Linked DNA regions of Homo sapiens: region 2 is linked to region 1. The links come from fine-mapping of genetic effects on gene expression. Tissue or cell type: whole blood. Region 1 holds a variant in brackets; the other region holds the start of a gene. All regions are shown on one strand. Distances are from middle to middle.

The links. PIP is the estimated chance that this variant, and not a neighbour inherited with it, causes the effect.
Region 2: LOXL2 starts here. The variant in region 1 is fine-mapped to the expression of LOXL2 in whole blood (TOPMed, PIP above 0.99).

The regions. Positions count from the first base shown.
Region 1 is chr8:23,427,981-23,436,084 of GRCh38, reverse strand. It overlaps ENTPD4 (ectonucleoside triphosphate diphosphohydrolase 4), which reads left to right. Exons shown (of 13, transcript NM_004901.5): 11 at 608-693; 12 at 1,607-1,768; 13 at 2,931-6,923. The coding sequence ends at 3,159. Among named protein-coding and RNA genes, the nearest start is that of ENTPD4, 26 kb to the left of the region's middle. The variant C/T (reference allele first, on the strand shown) is at 4,062.
Region 2 is chr8:23,399,983-23,408,086 of GRCh38, reverse strand. It overlaps LOXL2 (lysyl oxidase like 2), which reads left to right and starts at 3,967. Exons shown (of 14, transcript NM_002318.3): 1 at 3,967-4,133.

The DNA of each region.
Region 1 (8,104 bases):
TCCTTGTGCTCCCTGTCACACACCCAGGCCCATCTCCCACCTCTCAGCAGTGTCTTCATCCTTTAAATAGAGGTCGGGATGGTAGCCACCTCGAGGAGTTAAGTATTACATTGAGAAGACACACTTACACAATGCTCAATAAAAGTTATTATAACAAATAACTTCAAGAAAAGTGGGATCTCTTTCCCTTCTGTTAAAGACAAAAACCTTTTGCAGTTATTATCCCAGTAGCTTGTACTGTGTCCTCCACAGATGTAGGACTTAGTTTGAAGTAGCTAAAATACTGCTTCACTTTTCCAAAAATGTATGCCCGTACCATGCAGTCATGGAGGGAGAAACTAAACAGTTTTGGAGAGGTTGGTTGTGGACAGCAAAGCTCTCTTTAACAATACCCTGGACAGAATTTTAAGGCAAGGCATTGTGTTTGCGAATCAGTAAGTATTCCCTGAGTGTTTGTGTGTCTTGCCATTTGTTGTATAAGTTAAGCTTGTGTGTTTCCTAATGGGAAGGATATGCTTGTTACAAATATAAATTTGGTAAACCATTTTTAAAGTGAGAATTTTAATAAGCCTTTACTAGTGATCTATTTTGGTGAATTTGTTTTCAGGATTATTGTGCAACAAAGTGGTCCATTTTGCGGGAACGCTTTGACCGAGGACTGTACGCCTCTCATGCTGACCTCCACAGGCTTAAGTAAGTACTAGAAGGTCAAGCCCAGGGCACTCTTAAGAACCATAATGCAGTGTTGGCCCCACTGGCTTGCCACACCCTGGCCTCAGTCCAGCTTCTTCTCACTCACTGTTCTTCCCATCTACCCTGGGCCCCTTTCAAACGGGACAAATACTTGTGCCCAGACATATTCCGTATCTTTTTTGTTTTGGTCACTTTTACTGTCTCTTACCCCTGAAATTCCCCTGTTCATACCTTTGCTTGTTCAAGTCCTGCCCAGACATCAGAGTCCAGCCAGAGGCTGTCCCTTTCCAGTCTTCCTCTGTCCCCTCAATCAGACTTCATCCCTTTCTCTGAGTCTCAAGAATTCATCCTACCTCGCCAATGCATTTATCATGTTCTGCTTTTTCTGTTGCTTTTTAAAAATCCCCTTTCATTGTAAGTCACTTAAGTGCAGACACTGTATCTTACTAATTATTGTATCTTATTACTTGCTTAGCACAGTGCTTGGCAAAAAATAAACCTCTAATAAATATTTAGAGTCATAGAATATCAGAGCTGAAGAGAACCTTCCTACCATCTCATTTTATAATAAACTGAGGTACAAAGAGGTTGGAACCTGTTCAGTATTCATTCAAGGAGTACATGGTGAAATGCCAGCTGGAAAAGAAACCTATCTCAGGGATATATGACATTATGCCGAGACCGGGTTCATGCACTGATTGATTTGACAGGTGAACTGCTCCATGTTGTGGGACCAGGGATGTGAAGCAAGTACATCAACCTTGAAACGCGCGCAGTTGGTTTGGGAGAGCCGGCCTGAGGAAGCCCCTGCCCCAAGGCTGCCCACAGAGGGAAGGATTGTGTGTGTGTGTGTGTGTGTGCCATCTTGACAGAGTGAGTCAGTCTGACTTGCCTTTGTGCTTGCCGTTTGTAGGTATCAGTGCTTCAAATCGGCCTGGATGTTTGAGGTGTTTCATAGGGGCTTTTCGTTTCCTGTCAACTATAAAAGCTTAAAGACTGCCTTGCAAGTTTACGACAAGGAGGTTCAGTGGACCCTTGGAGCCATCCTCTACAGGACCCGCTTTCTACCATTAAGGTAGGGCTGTGAATTTGGGAACGAGAATCAAAAAGATGCTTTTCTGCAGTTACAGCACCTCATGGCAGCTGTGGTCTGTGGCTGTTTGGGGCATTGCTGTTAGAGCCGGCCACGGCAGAATTGTAGGGACAGTGACGTTTGCTTTTGGTCTTGCCCCCTCCCCACAAGTGCTTCCTCCCTTCTCACCCTACCATCCCGTAATACACAGCACTCCTGTCCTACTGCCCTGTGTTTGGTTATTCTCAACTGTCTGTTCCCCAGCCCCGGCAAAAGGGTCAGTTCCGGGGTTCTTAACCTTTATGACTCAGGCCTCTTCTCCAAATACTGTTTAAATGCATGTATAAATACATAGGATTACAGAAGAAACCATCATATTGAAATAATACCAAAATATTACAGAAAACAAGTTTGTGATACTGTAATATGTGTTCTTCTCTATTAACACATTAAATAACAGGATCTGGCAGCAGAATTAGCACTTTCTGTAATTTCAGTGTAGTCAATGAGCGTCAATGATATTTTGAGGCATTGATGATACCATAATGGGACATGAAAGATCTGTGATTTTCGTTAGTAACAAAGTTGCAGGTGCTGCCAACGCTAATGATAGTTTGTTGTCTGCATTCATGGTCAAAGAAATGCTACATCTCAGTCAGCGCTTGGGTAGAACAAAGATGTGCGTTTTTCCCCATTCACGTTTGCAGATCTGCTGTCAGTTGACCTGTGCTAAGAACCTGAGTTACCTGATAGATGAGACATTTGCTCTTCCCCCCACCCCCTCCATTTAATTGAGCATTTCTCAGCAACCCTTTTAACTGGGTTAACTGTAAAAATGGTGAGTCATGGGTGTTACTGATCACAAGCATGCAGTTTGTTTACATGTTGACTTCTTTGTATCAGCGAAACCTTCACGGCTCTTCTAAATTCCTCTGATTTTGGTTGCCCAAATTATAATGACCGACTTCAGAGTATACTTTCACATGTTATCTCACTGATACTTAGAAGCCCCCTGCATTGGGCTGTTCCGTTCTCCATTTCAGAGGTAGGGTTGCAGTTCCTAAAGTGCAGCTCTGGGGCCTGGGTCCCGCCGTCCCCCTGTGCACCCTTTCCACCCCTTTCCTTGCTTACTGTCCTGTTTGTTGTTTGGTGTTCACATGGGCAGAGACATCCAGCAGGAGGCCTTCCGAGCCAGTCACACCCACTGGCGGGGCGTTTCCTTTGTCTACAACCACTACCTGTTCTCTGGCTGCTTCCTGGTGGTGCTGCTGGCCATCCTGCTGTACCTGCTGCGGCTGCGGCGCATCCACAGGCGCACTCCCCGGAGCAGCTCGGCCGCCGCCCTCTGGATGGAGGAGGGCCTTCCCGCCCAGAATGCCCCGGGGACCTTGTGATCCAGCTCACAGCTCCACGAAGACTCAAAAGGAAAAGCCATTTTTGCCTCAGGGTTTCTCCTCTTTATTTTCCTGTGGTTTTGTTTTTTCTTTCCCTTTTTTGTTCCTCCAAACAAAAACAAAATGCAGGCCGAGCGCGGTGGCTCACGCCTGTAATCCCAGCACTTTGGGAGGCCGAGGCGGGCGGATCATGAGGTCAGGAGATCGAGACCATCCTGGCTAACACGGTGAAACCCCGTCTCTACTAAAAATACAAAAAATTAGCTGGGTGTGGTGGCGGGCGCCCGTAGTCCCAGCTACTCAGGAGGCTGAGGCAGGAGAATGGCATGAACCTGGGAGGCAGAGCTTGCAGTGAGCCGAGATCACACCACTGCACTCCAGCCTGGGCGACAGAGTGAGACTCCGTCTCAAAAAAAAAAAATGCATTGTTTATAAGCCCTGCTGTCTAGAAGTATTGCGTTTAGCCATTTTGAGTACAGCATTAAATTGAGGAGTGGGGAAGAGGGAAATTCACTTGATTTTTGCTGCACAGGATATCTGCCAAAAATAAATGAGATTTCTGGGGTTTCTCTAAGGAATGTTAAATTTAAACACATGCACTTTGATACTGGAGGGAGGTGGAAAGATGCATTCTGTCAGTGGAGAGGGGACTGAATAGTGATGCTTTCATAGAACCAAAAAACTTACTGCCTGAAATGATAATCCTCTTTTTTCTCTATCTTGAAAGCTCTAACCTGAAGAGGGTGATTTTTTTTTTTATTTATTGTTCAGGTCTGTTACTGTATATGTTTTCTTTGCAAATTTAAATTTTTTAAACCATTTATATCCAAAACAGAGAAACATGGGCACCAGGAGATAACCATTTATAAAAGTGATAGTGAACTATCGACTACAGCTTTGTG[C/T]GAGTGTGTGAAAAATCCCAAGAAACCAGCGTGAGGGGAGGCAATGCTGGTTCTTTAAAAACACACACTTCAGAATTTACTGGTACATTTTATTTAGAAAAATCCTCGTTACTGTTATCTTTTCCTGACCGCAGGTAATTACGCTCCTTATTCCATATTTCAGTGGCATTAGAACACTGTGGTTTTGAAAGAATTGGAAATTCCTAGTTTCACCAGTTTCGGTTTTATTGGAACTAGAGCACATGCCCACTTCTTGCTCAGTATTCCTCAGTGTTTCTGCTTAATCGTGCCTCAGTTTCTTCCAGCTTCCAATTGGTGTTTCCCCCACCCCCCTTAATTAAAAGTCATCTCAGCTTTTAATCGTACTGGGAGACCCCATGCACAGCCTGCCGAGTCCTCTTCCTAACCGCATTGACTGAGGCTGTTGCTGGCAGCACCACTGTAAATCCAGAAGGGAAGAGTCTGCATCCAATACAGGAAATAAATTCACATTTTGAAGGAAAAAATTCGACAATTTAAGCCAAAATCTAAAAAGGACAATTGGATTGGCATATGTGAGATTGGTGTTTTTTCACCTATTTATTTAGTTGAGAAGTTTGGGGAATTCTCGTACAGTTTTTTTAGGTGGAGTTTGTTTTGTGCGAGTGTCTGTGTGTGCTGTTCCCTAACTCCAGAACAGTTAAATTCCTGTAGTTGGTAGCAGATTAGTACCCAGAAGTGGGGTTGTTGCTATAACAGATAACTGAGGATATTATAAAAGTGGCTTTGGAACTAGGTACTGGGCAGAGGCTGGGAGAGTTTGGAGAAACAGGAGAGAAAAGGCCTGTATTGCCATGAACTGAGCATTAGGGGCAGTTCTGCTGAGGGATCAGAAGAGAAGACCAAGGGAATTCTGTCCCAGTTGTGGCTCAAACTGCCTCAGGTGCAGCTTAACCTGCGTCTCTGGAAGGTAAAATGCATCTGATCCTTGAGGCAAGAGCTGTGGGGGCATGGCTCCCTCACCTGGATTTCAAAGCGTGTTACCAGCAGCCTGGGGACCCAGGCTCTGCCTCTGGATTTACCTGCATCGTATTTGCGCTTCGTGGTCAAAGTTGTTAAGAAAGGGGTGAGCTTCTGGCTACCTAATAAGTTGGTCTTGGCCACCTGCCTGCGACACTTCCTGGAGGAGCCATGGATTATTGGTGGAGGCTGCAGGGAGCTGGCGATGGAGCCACTGGTGTCAGCAGCAGAGAGGGAAGAAAGGAAAGGAAGGGGCCACAAATGGTTGAAGTGGGCAGGTGGGCACCCAGGGAGTTAGGGGACCCCGCCTTCCAGCTCTGGGCATAGAAGAGTTAGTCACATACCTGAGGATCCTGAAACAAGGGCTGAGAAAACCTCATTGCTCCAGCTGAGAGGTAGTAGTGGATTTGCCATTTTTAAACAGTTGCCTAAGAAAAAACGTTGAAGAATATGCAGCAGACACTATATGTGGCCTGTAAAGCCTAGAATATTTACTAAAATATTTACAGAAAAAGTTTGCTGGTCCTTGTGAGAACAATGCAGTTCAAAAAAGGATACAGACAGAAGCATCCTCTTAAATCAGGAATGTAGTTTCCATTTGTGGGCACGAAAAGATGGACAAGAGAAGTAACCAAACTTCAATCTTAAAATATTTGTTGCACCAGAATTTCACTTCGGATTTTTCCGTCTAGATTATTTTCAAGATGAGTTTTGAAACAAACCAAGAAACCTGCCCCTCACCCAAAATTGTTTAAAAAGAGACCACTCAAGGGAGTTCATTATGCCGTATGGAGATGTCTGCAGTCGCAGCAAATCACATTCCAGAGAAGGTCTCGCGTAGGTGAAGACAGCCAGGTGCTTTCTCTAAGAGATACAGGGTGGGTGAGAGACAAGCCAGGGAGGATCTTAATTCAAGAGAAGAATTCATACCAAGAGCTGACCAAGAAGGCAGTAAATTCTGTGTACTTGTAGCAGAAGAAATTGGACTAGGAACTTGCCCAAAGCTTTATCAAAGAAAAGCATTGTGTTCAATCTTGGTAGAAACATGCCAGCAATAAGTGCTTATGTTCCATAGCCATATCATGGGCTTCTCACTTTTAAACCTCCTCCAGGGGATGTTCTCAGACATTTCACAATCCCTCTGGGGACATTACAGTAGAAGAGAAACACATGGAACTGTACCAGTGCTTTTTGCCCATGTTCATCCTAAGCTCCGGCTTTAGGCAGTGCTTTCTGACCTGGGCGGAGTGAAGACGCTGCTGGTGGCTGAGGCCAGTAACATGGGGCCCCTGCCCAGCCACCCTGAAGGCTGGGTAGGTCCCTCTTTTCACCACCAGTTTTCCACATCTGTGTACTCTAGATTAACAAACTCTGGATAAACAGATATTTACATTTTAAACTCAGGCCTACACAGAGTAGTTTTCCTTATAAGGAGCATGTATCACTTAGCAAGAAACTAAAAATGGCAAATGAGTTTTTCATCCTTTAAGAAAAAAATCAGCTTTAGAATTCTCTGCGGTCAGTTGTGTGCAATGCAACAAAACTACCTTTCAGTAAATTACTTAGTTATTTATTTCAGTGTTTTGTTTCTTTTGATACTAAGTTTCCCTTTCAATAATGAATGATGTGACCAACCAAGGAGAATTTGTTTGTTCTGTACTAAAATTATATTTTACAGTTAGGAATTATAAAAAGCAAGGGAGCATCTTTAAATGTTTTTTGTTTAAGCGATGTCTTCCATCCAAAGTAAGAATAATACTCTCGGAAGGTCCTTTTGGTGTCATGTCACTTGCTGTATGTGGCAGCCTTACAGTGCCACACTTGGGTACTGAAAAATCAATAAAACGAAAGTTCATCATCCCATGGCCCGTAGACTGTGTGGGCTTGCTTCCTTGTCATCTTTGAATCTTCTTACTCATTAGAATGATGAGTTGAACTTGAGTCCAAATTCAGTGAAATACATTGTCTGAGTCTGACGCACACTCTTTGCATGTGTTGTGTTGGGTGTGCATACAGTGAAGCACAATTGTGTGGGGTTGTGGAGAGGGCGTCCACACTCTCTGCAGCTCAGAAAGCAGATATTTCACAAGTAGTGACCAACCCACGACGTTAAGCCATTCACCAACAATAATTGCCACTCTGAGATGACTGTTTATAAGGTCACCATTTTAAGTACCTACTTGTATATAGACAAGGAAAAGTAATAAAATTAACCAATTTTTATGTATTTAATAGTAACAGCAAATGCTGACTTTATGTTACACTGTTTTGCAGTTCGATCTAAGCTTAGAACCTTTGGCTTACTTCCAGAAAATTATGACTGTCATTATTAATGTTACGTGTTACCAATATGGAGGATGACATTAGACGCTCAGCATGTTTCTCAGCCGTTGGAGAATACATAGATGTTCTCCTGGAGCAGGAAGGTGGGCCTGAGCCATAACCTGAAAATAGATGATAGAGACAGATGGGAAGGGAAGGGGACCAGCTGTTAGGACCAACAAAAATAAAGGCCTGAGACATGCCGGAGAGGAGAGGGAAGCGCAAAAACAAAATGAGAGAACAGAGCCAGCAAAGTGAGCTCAAGGGAGGTCCTCAAGCCATTGATCGCTAGGAAAACAGGACACAGCATTAAGATAGAACTGTCGTAAATAATTTTTGAGGCAGTGCAATGACTATAGGGCTTTTTGCCTGACTTTAAATACGTTAAAATATCTAAGATGTTAAAAGACATCTAAATTTTTATTCCACTTGGTGGAAGAGAAGTCAGTGCCTATTTCCAACACTAACCATGTTGACAGGTCTGAAAAGCCATGGTTCTGTGTTTTTGTTTTCAGTCTGTTTCCATTTGTCCTATGAATTGGCATGTGCCCTGTGGGTTTTTTTGGTTTTTTTGAGATCCGGAAATGCTAATGGTTTGCACAGAGGGGGTCGTGAGGTGCAGGTCACCTCTGTCAGAGTCACAGTGTCTTCTTTTGGAAACGTCATGAAAAGACAAAGGAGTGCCCGGCTAATCCCAAAGCACGCCTTGGCAGAGTGGATCT
Region 2 (8,104 bases), 28 kb after region 1:
AGGCACAGACCGGCTACAGCATTGGCTGGGCCTCCCTGGAGCCTCAGGCTATGCCTACTGGGACATGCTATGCTTCTTTCAATCTAAGTCGGTCCAGACTGGTAGGAGAGTGATTTGGCAAGAGAGTGCAAAAGCCAAGGGAAAAAAAAGAAAGAATCGCCTCTAGCCTTTGACTCAGTAATCACATTCTGGGAATGGATCCTAATGCAGTAATTCACATGACCCCTGGGGATGGGGTGGACAGGAGGTGTTGCCTTCCCTCTCCCTGTGTGGGGTCTGAAGCCCTGAGGGACAAGGAGTCACTGTGCCCTCCTCAAAGATGCCCTCCTCACAACGCAACATTTATTGTCCAAGTACCATACGAGGGACTGTTCTGAGTCTGAGCCCATTCAGTCCTTTTACTCCTTTGGAGCTTTTTTTTTTTTTTTAACAGATACCGCTTTGTCACCCGGGCTGGAGTGCAGTGGCATGATCTCAGTTCAAATGCAGCCTTGACTTCCTGGGCTCAAGTGATCCTCCTGCCTCAGCGCCCCAAGTAGCTAGGACTACAAGCCCATACCACCACGCCTGGCTAATTTTTATATTTTTTGTAGAGACAGGGTTTTGCCATGTTGCCCAGGCTGGTCTCAAACTCCTGGACTCAAGCAACCCACCCACCTTGGCCTCCCACAGTGCTGAGATTACAAGCTTAAGCCACTCCACTCAACCTCTTAGGAGCATTTTGAGGCGCTTCTTACAGATGAAGCATGTGAAGGAAAAGGGAGTTCACATCAGTTAATGGTGGAGCCAAGATTTGAACCCAGGCCCCCTGACTGCACAAGCATGCCCTGAACCTACTGTACGACTCTGCCTCTGCAGCAGTGCAGGACCTGAGTGGTGGAGGTGGCAGGGTGGGAGGTGTATCCAGACTTACAGACATAAGGCATCCCGCCATCATTTTGTTTCATCTGGGACAAGGGTCTACTGTTGTCCTGAAGTAGTCTCCTAGGTCTTGATTTCAATTCAACAAAAGGGCATCAATAAAACACTCAGTGCAAACTTCAGATACTCTACTCATTTCCTCTTGGAAGTGAGGACATGGTAAGGCAGAGATGGACTTACTGAGGCCTCCAGTGTGGGCCACTAATACTTGCTGGACGAGTCAAGCTCCTTTTGGTTCTCCCAGCTCGGCCATTCCCTGCCTCTGTGACGCTGGGAAAATCACTTCTCTGAGCCAGGGCTTTCTCATCTGTAACAATTAGCAGGAACCACACTGTACCCAATCAATAAATATTACTTTCACAGGGGTAATTGTCATGGCGTAATTTACACTAGCAAAAAGCTGTAAACAACTGAATATCCAATAATGGAGAAATGACTCCATTGCACAATAATTTCAGACCAGAACTGTCTAAAACCATTAAAAATTACATTGAAAAATTAACACAAAATGATATAGTAAAAAAAATCAGAGGCCAGGTGAAGTGGCTCACGTCTGTAATCCCAGCACTTTGGGAGGCAGAGGTGGGTGGATCACTTGAAACCAGGAGTTCAAGGACAGCCCGGCCAGCATGGTGAAACCCTGTCTCTACTAAAAATACAAAAATTAGCCACACGTGATGGCACATGCCTGTAATCCCAGCTACTCGGGAGGCTGAGACAGACTTGGGAAGCTGAACCTGGGAGGGGGAGGTTGCAGTGAGCCGAGACTGCGCCACTGAACTCCAGCTTGGGAGTCAGAGCTAGAGTCTGTCTCAAAAAAAAAAAAAAAAAAAAATCAGGATACAAAAACTGTAACTACAATTTGGTTGAACAAATATTCTGAAGGAAAGACTCCAAACAGTAGGTGTTTATGGGTGATAAGACACCAGAGTGACAATTTCTTCCTTACATTTTACATATTTTCTGAATATTTCACAAGAAGTTTGCTTTTCTTTATAACAGACAAAAGATTATTTACAAAGTTGGTCTCCTTTCATTTTCTACCTTATTAGTGAATGCTTTAGCAAGAGAGGGTAGGACTAGAAGTGGAAGGATGGGAGATGGGGAAAGGGGAGAGCTCAGTTTCACCAGCATTTATTGAGCATCTGGTACGTCCAGGCACTGTGTAGGGTGTGACAGCTGAGTGAAAGCTCAATAACCAGGCATTACTGTGCAGAGAAGCCAAGGGAATGTCACGTTCAAAGGTCCTGGGGTGTGAAATAGAAGGCTTATAGGAGCACAGAAAGTAAGGCCCAGGGGGAGAGGTGAGATGTGGTTGGCAGTTGGGCAGGCTGGAAATGCCCCAGAGGCCCTGTCAGCTTAATCAAGGGATTCAGATTACATTTTTCTTTTTCTGAGACGGAGTCTCGCTCTGTCCCCGAGGCTGGAGTGCAGTGGCGGGATCTCGGCTCACTGCAAGCTCCGCCTCCCGGGTTCACCCCATTCTCCTGCCTCAGCTTCCCGAGTAGCTGGGACTACAGGCGCCCGCCACCACGCCCGGCTAATTTTTTGTATTTTTAGTAGAGACGGGGTTTCACCATGTTAGCCAGGATGGTCTCGATCTCCTGACCTTGTGATCCGCCTGCCTCGGCCTCCCAAAGTGCTGGGATTACAGGCATGAGCCACCGCACCCAGCCAGGATTCAGATTACATTTTGAGGACCTTGGAGCCACGGAGGATTTTTTTAAATTTTTAATTGAAATTTTATTGGGTGTATTACGTTCTATACAATTTTATCACCTGTGTGGTTTTCTGTATCTCAAGACACTGAATAGTTCCACCACCACAAAGATCCCTCCTCCTGCCTTTGATAACTACACCCCCTTCCTCTGACCCTTGCCCTCTACTGCCCACCAGAGTCAGGGACTGATCAGTGGGGAGGGTAAGGAGGAGGCAACGGAGAAGACCCCATATCTGCCTGGGAGAGCTCACAGGAGTCAAGGTGGACCGTGAGTTGCAGTGCCAAGTTTGGGGCTTGCCAGGTTAGCTACGGCCATGGGAATGTCCAGGTGAAAGTCTTTCGGGGCCAATGGATTTAAATATCCATGGCTTAGGAGAGAAGCCTGGGCTGGAGGTGAGATTTGGGAGGGGTTTGTCTCCTCAGGGAGTGGAGTAAGAGAGGACTGAGGAAGGAGCCGCCTTTCAGGTGACAGTCTACTTCTGCACAGGGGTCCCTTGTTTTGCAGCTCGCTGCCTCCTTGGGACTGGCAAAGCCCTGCTCTTGCTTAAGGAGCCCTCTCTGTGCAGAGGGCTCTCCCAGCATGCCCATCCCCCACCCGGAGCCTCAGAGCCAGGCACAGGAGGTCCTTCTGCACAATGGCCACGCATTAGCTGTGTCCTGTTCAGTCCCCAAGCACAGGGCTTGTTAATCCCAGCCCTACCATTCCAGGAAGGACCCCAGAGGTCACGGAATCCAAAGCGTTGAATTTACAAAGAAGAAAACTAGTCCTCGGAGAAGAGGCTTGGCCAAGGCCATAGACGTGATCTGCTGGCCGAAAGGGGGCTGTTTATTTACTGGTTCAGGATCGGTTTTCCCCCTACAGGAAAAGGGAGGTGAAACCCAGGCGAGATGGGTGCAAGTTTCTGAACACTTTCATTCGGCAGCTTTAATTGAGCGTGTATTATGTGCCAAGGAGGGCCAGGGTTTTCGGGATAGGAGGTGGACAAGGCACGGGCCCTAAGGCTGGTGGATAAGGACATCGAAGGGTTAAATTCTGGGACGGCTGCAGGGAGGAAAGGGTAGAGGAATCTCCCGAGGAAAGGCCCCCTTCCCGGCATCTCAGGCTCCGGAAACCCGGGCGCGAGGAGCCTGGGAAGGGCTGCCCCGCAGGCCTTGGCCTCCCCCGCGGAGCTCCCTCTGGCCCTGGGAGTGGCCGCTCTCGAATTACAACAAAAGAGGCCGGAGGCCGGGCCTGCTGCGGCGGCCGCCTTCGGGGAAGGGGGTGGGTCCGGGGAGGGGTTTGCCATCCTCCTCTAGTTAAAAGTAAGGGGGAAAAGAGTAAACGCGCGACTCCAGCGCGCGGCTACCTACGCTTGGTGCTTGCTTTCTCCAGCCATCGGAGACCAGAGCCGCCCCCTCTGCTCGAGAAAGGGGCTCAGCGGCGGCGGAAGCGGAGGGGGACCACCGTGGAGAGCGCGGTCCCAGCCCGGCCACTGCGGATCCCTGAAACCAAGTAAGAGCGCTTCCCGCGCCACCCCCTCCCCGAAGCGGTTCGCGAGAAAGCGGGAGCGTCCCTATGGGGTCTCCAGGCTTCGTCCTGCGCGGGGCTGCCTCTCGACAGTGCCTGGGGGTTCCCAAAGACTTCTTGCGGGGAGCGATGCGAGGACGTGCAGGCTAACGGGTCCTCCTGCCGCCCCGGGCGGCCCCGCCCAACCCCACCTCGTACGGGCCGGGCGCGGCGCGGCTGCTGGCGCGCCCGGGGAGCGAGGCGCTGGGTCCCTGGATCGTCCCGAGCGCCCGTAATCAGGCGGGACAGAGCCCGTCAAGTCTCGGTGTGTGCTGGGCGTCTTGGAGAGTGCAGCGTGGCTCCAGGGACAGCGTCTCCGGAATTCTGGCTTTGAGGAGTGGGGCACGCGGGGGACGGGTCGGGAGACAGTGACTGCCCTCGGGGCTGTGGTTTTGGGGATGTAGAGCGTGCTGGGCTGGGACGGAGTGGGGGCGGGGACCCCGGGGGCTGCGCCCGGGAGCTGTAGCGTCCACTGCTTGAACCCGGTTCAACCCCCAGCCTGCTCGAAAGGCTGTTGGGAGCGCGGGAGCGCCGTGAGTCCTGCGGGAGCAGAGGCGCTCTCGGCACGCCAGGTATGCACTCCCAAGTCGCCCTGCCTCTCCGGGGACCAGGGACCCTCTCCCGCCTTCATCACCTAGAAGCCCTGGAGTTGGAAAGAACGGGCACGAGCGAACCCACGGCTACAGCTGATCCCAATCTTGAGCCGTTGGTCCGGTGGTCTGAAGTGCCTACAACTTTTACGCAGGCGCTTTGCCCACCGCGCCCCTTCTCACCAGCCCAAATTTGGAAGCCCTCTGGGTGTGGCTGCCTGCTCGAGGTGTCCCAGGAATCAGCGCTGGAATAGAGATGATTGGGAGAACAAGCGAGGTTCCCTCCTCTCCGTGCCCGAGCTAAGACCATCAAAAAACAGCCGGAGTGCGGGGCGGAGCGGGGCGAGGGTGTGAGGAAGAGAACACCGCAGAACACGGCGAGGGAGGGGGCTGAACTACTCAATATGGTTAGGAAACCCCAAGTCCTGATGAGGGGAGAGATGTGCATGACAGAAACATGCTCCAAATTAGTTTCGTCCCTAAGATCTTGAAACTGCAGAGATCTCAAAAACAATACTTTTTTTTTTTTTCTCCCAGAGGAAGAAAAACGCTGAGGCTCACGGTCACTGAGTTAGTCAATGTGGGGACTGAAACCCATACCTCTTACTCCAGGCCCCTCCCCTACACCACTGCTAGCCTGTCCGTCCTGGAACCCCAAAACAACATTTGTCATCTTTGGTGGAATGAATTAGTTATTGATGGTGTATCATGTACTTAATGGTCAGGGTTGGGGTTTAGGGTGGAAGAGGAAGAGTTCATTTCCCTGGTCAGTTCCCAGATAAGTGACTGACTCACTGGATCCTAACTTGACTAAATTTTTAATCTTTCTCCTCACCTTTGTCCCGTTCCTCTTCCTGGTCCCTAGTATCTGCCCTGGAATGGCCACCAGAGCCATGACAAGATGCGTGCTCCCCATGGGCCCCAGTGGCTACCAAGGCTCTCCCCAAGGAAATTGAGTCTCACTAATCTGTGTGTGCACGCGCGCACGTTTGTGTATGCATGTGTGCACGTGTATGTGTGGGCACATGTATGTGTGCATGTGTGTGTCTCCACACGAGTGTGTTTGTGTATGTGTGTGCACCGGTGTGTGTTTATATGCGCACACAGGTGTGTGTGCGCGGGCACGTGTGTGTGCACGCAATGTGTGTGCATATGTATTCCTGTGTGCATGTGTGCACACCTGTATGTGTATATGTGTATTTGTGTTTGTGTGCATGTTTGCATGTGTATGTGTGTGTGCGCGTTTGTGCACTTGTGTGTATGTGTGTGCACGCATGTGTGCACGTGTGTATATGTATATGTGTGTTTGTGCATGCATGTGCATTTGCTTCCCTGTAACTTTGTGTTAGAAAGTGACTTAGTCTAAGGTCACTTAGGCATTGAGTGGCAAAGTTGAGTATGAAACTCAGGTCTGAAAACAAAACGTACTTAACACCACACATTGGCTGACATTTTAAGTATCACAGATAGGAGATTCTGCAAAGATGCTTCCTTTTATTTTCTTTCCAACTGGCCTCTCCTGGCCTCTTCCCAAGTCCTTGTCCTTTGACCTCTAGATGGCCAGTGTGGAAGGGCTTTGTGAAGGAAACAGATTTTCTGTGCTCTAGATAGACATGACCATCAGCGAAGGTGTTGAGTCCCAGAAAACACTACATTGTTTATTTTTTATTCTCAAAAAATTTCAAGTATGCAAAAAAAGTAGAGAGAAGGGTATAATGATGCCTCATAAGCTTCTCACTGAATTTCAACAGTTATTTTGCCACATGTACGTCATCTGTCCCTTTGTTTCTGTCATTGAAGTAGTTTAAAGCAAATCCTATACATCATGTCATTTCATTGCTACATATTTCAGTGTGATTTCTAAAGATTTTACATAACTATGATGCCATATTTAGACCTAAGAAAACTAAAAAAAAAATATTTGGTATCATCTAATGCCAAATAGCAGTCTATATTTAAGCATTTCCCAATTTTCCTCAAAATGTCTTTTTTTATAGTTGATCTGAGTTCTGTTGATTTGTGTAACTTGTTACATTCCTATTGTTATGTTCTTCCTTTCAAACTACTTTTCTGTCCACTATGTCATTTGATTCTTACAAGGTCCCACTAAAGAGTTAGGTGAGTATTTTCAAATTCATTTCTCAGCTGAGGAAATGGATAAACAGATAAGCTGTCCAGAGGGCACAGCTGGTGACCCAGGGAGCCAGGGTCTAACCCAGCCTCCTCATGGCTGGGCTTCGGTGGTTCTGGTTCTCCATGTTACTCGTGGACTCTCAGCTGCTCTCTGAAGAGTTCTTCTTGGCTCAGGCTTCATCCTGGGCTTATCACTTCCTATACACCTGCTGTCAGAAATCCCTGTGTAAATATTAGTAATTGGACATTTGGTGCTTGAGATAAATGAACTGCAAAATCAGGAAGCCAGGGTTTGTTTCCTAGCTCATTGCAAAACTGTAAGGGCTCAGAGCTGCCCTCTCTGAACTAGAGAGCAGTGTACTTCCTCATTATTTGACTCCAAGGTGTAAAAATAGGATGAGTGAAATGACTGTTGCTGGGATTCCTGGAAGAAACAAAGGCCCCAGAAAGAAATCTAGTAGAGGACAATCTCCCCTCTCTGAGCATCACCTGAGTACTCTGACAGCTGGTACCTTCATGCTGAAGCCCTCAAATCCTATGACAGAGAAGTAGGGGTATATAGGCTTCCCATTGAAGCCCTTAGTTTATGCATGACTTTATTCTGCATTTGACCAATGAAGATATGCAACACCTGATATGGCTTGGCTGTGTCCCCACCCAAATCTCATTGTGAATTGTAGCTGTCATAATTCCCATGTGTTGTAGGAAAGACCCGATGAAAGGTAATTGAATCATGGGGGTAGATCTTTCCCCTGAGAAGTAAATCTCGTGAGATATGGTTTTATAAATGGGAGTCCCCTGTACATGCTCTCTTGCCTGCCACCATGTAAGATGTTCCTTTGCTCTTCCTTTGTCTTCTGCCATGATTGTGAGGCCTCCCCAGCCATGTGGCATTGTGAGTCCATTAAACCTCCTCCCTTTACAAAGTACCCAGTCTCGGGTATGTCTTTATTAGCAGCATGAGAACAGACTAATACAACACCAGAGCCTTCTGCTTTTAGCATTTTCATTACTTAAGTTTATTTGCTTTTGAAATGGAGCGAAGAAGAAATTTCTCCACCTTGTTAATGAGACTCATAAGTTGGAATTCTCCTTTCTTGGCAGATCATGTGGGAAAAAGGAATCTCTTGGCACAGGACTCCTAGATGTTCTGCTGTTACGCTTGTTGCTTTGAAACAGGGAATGAACAGACCT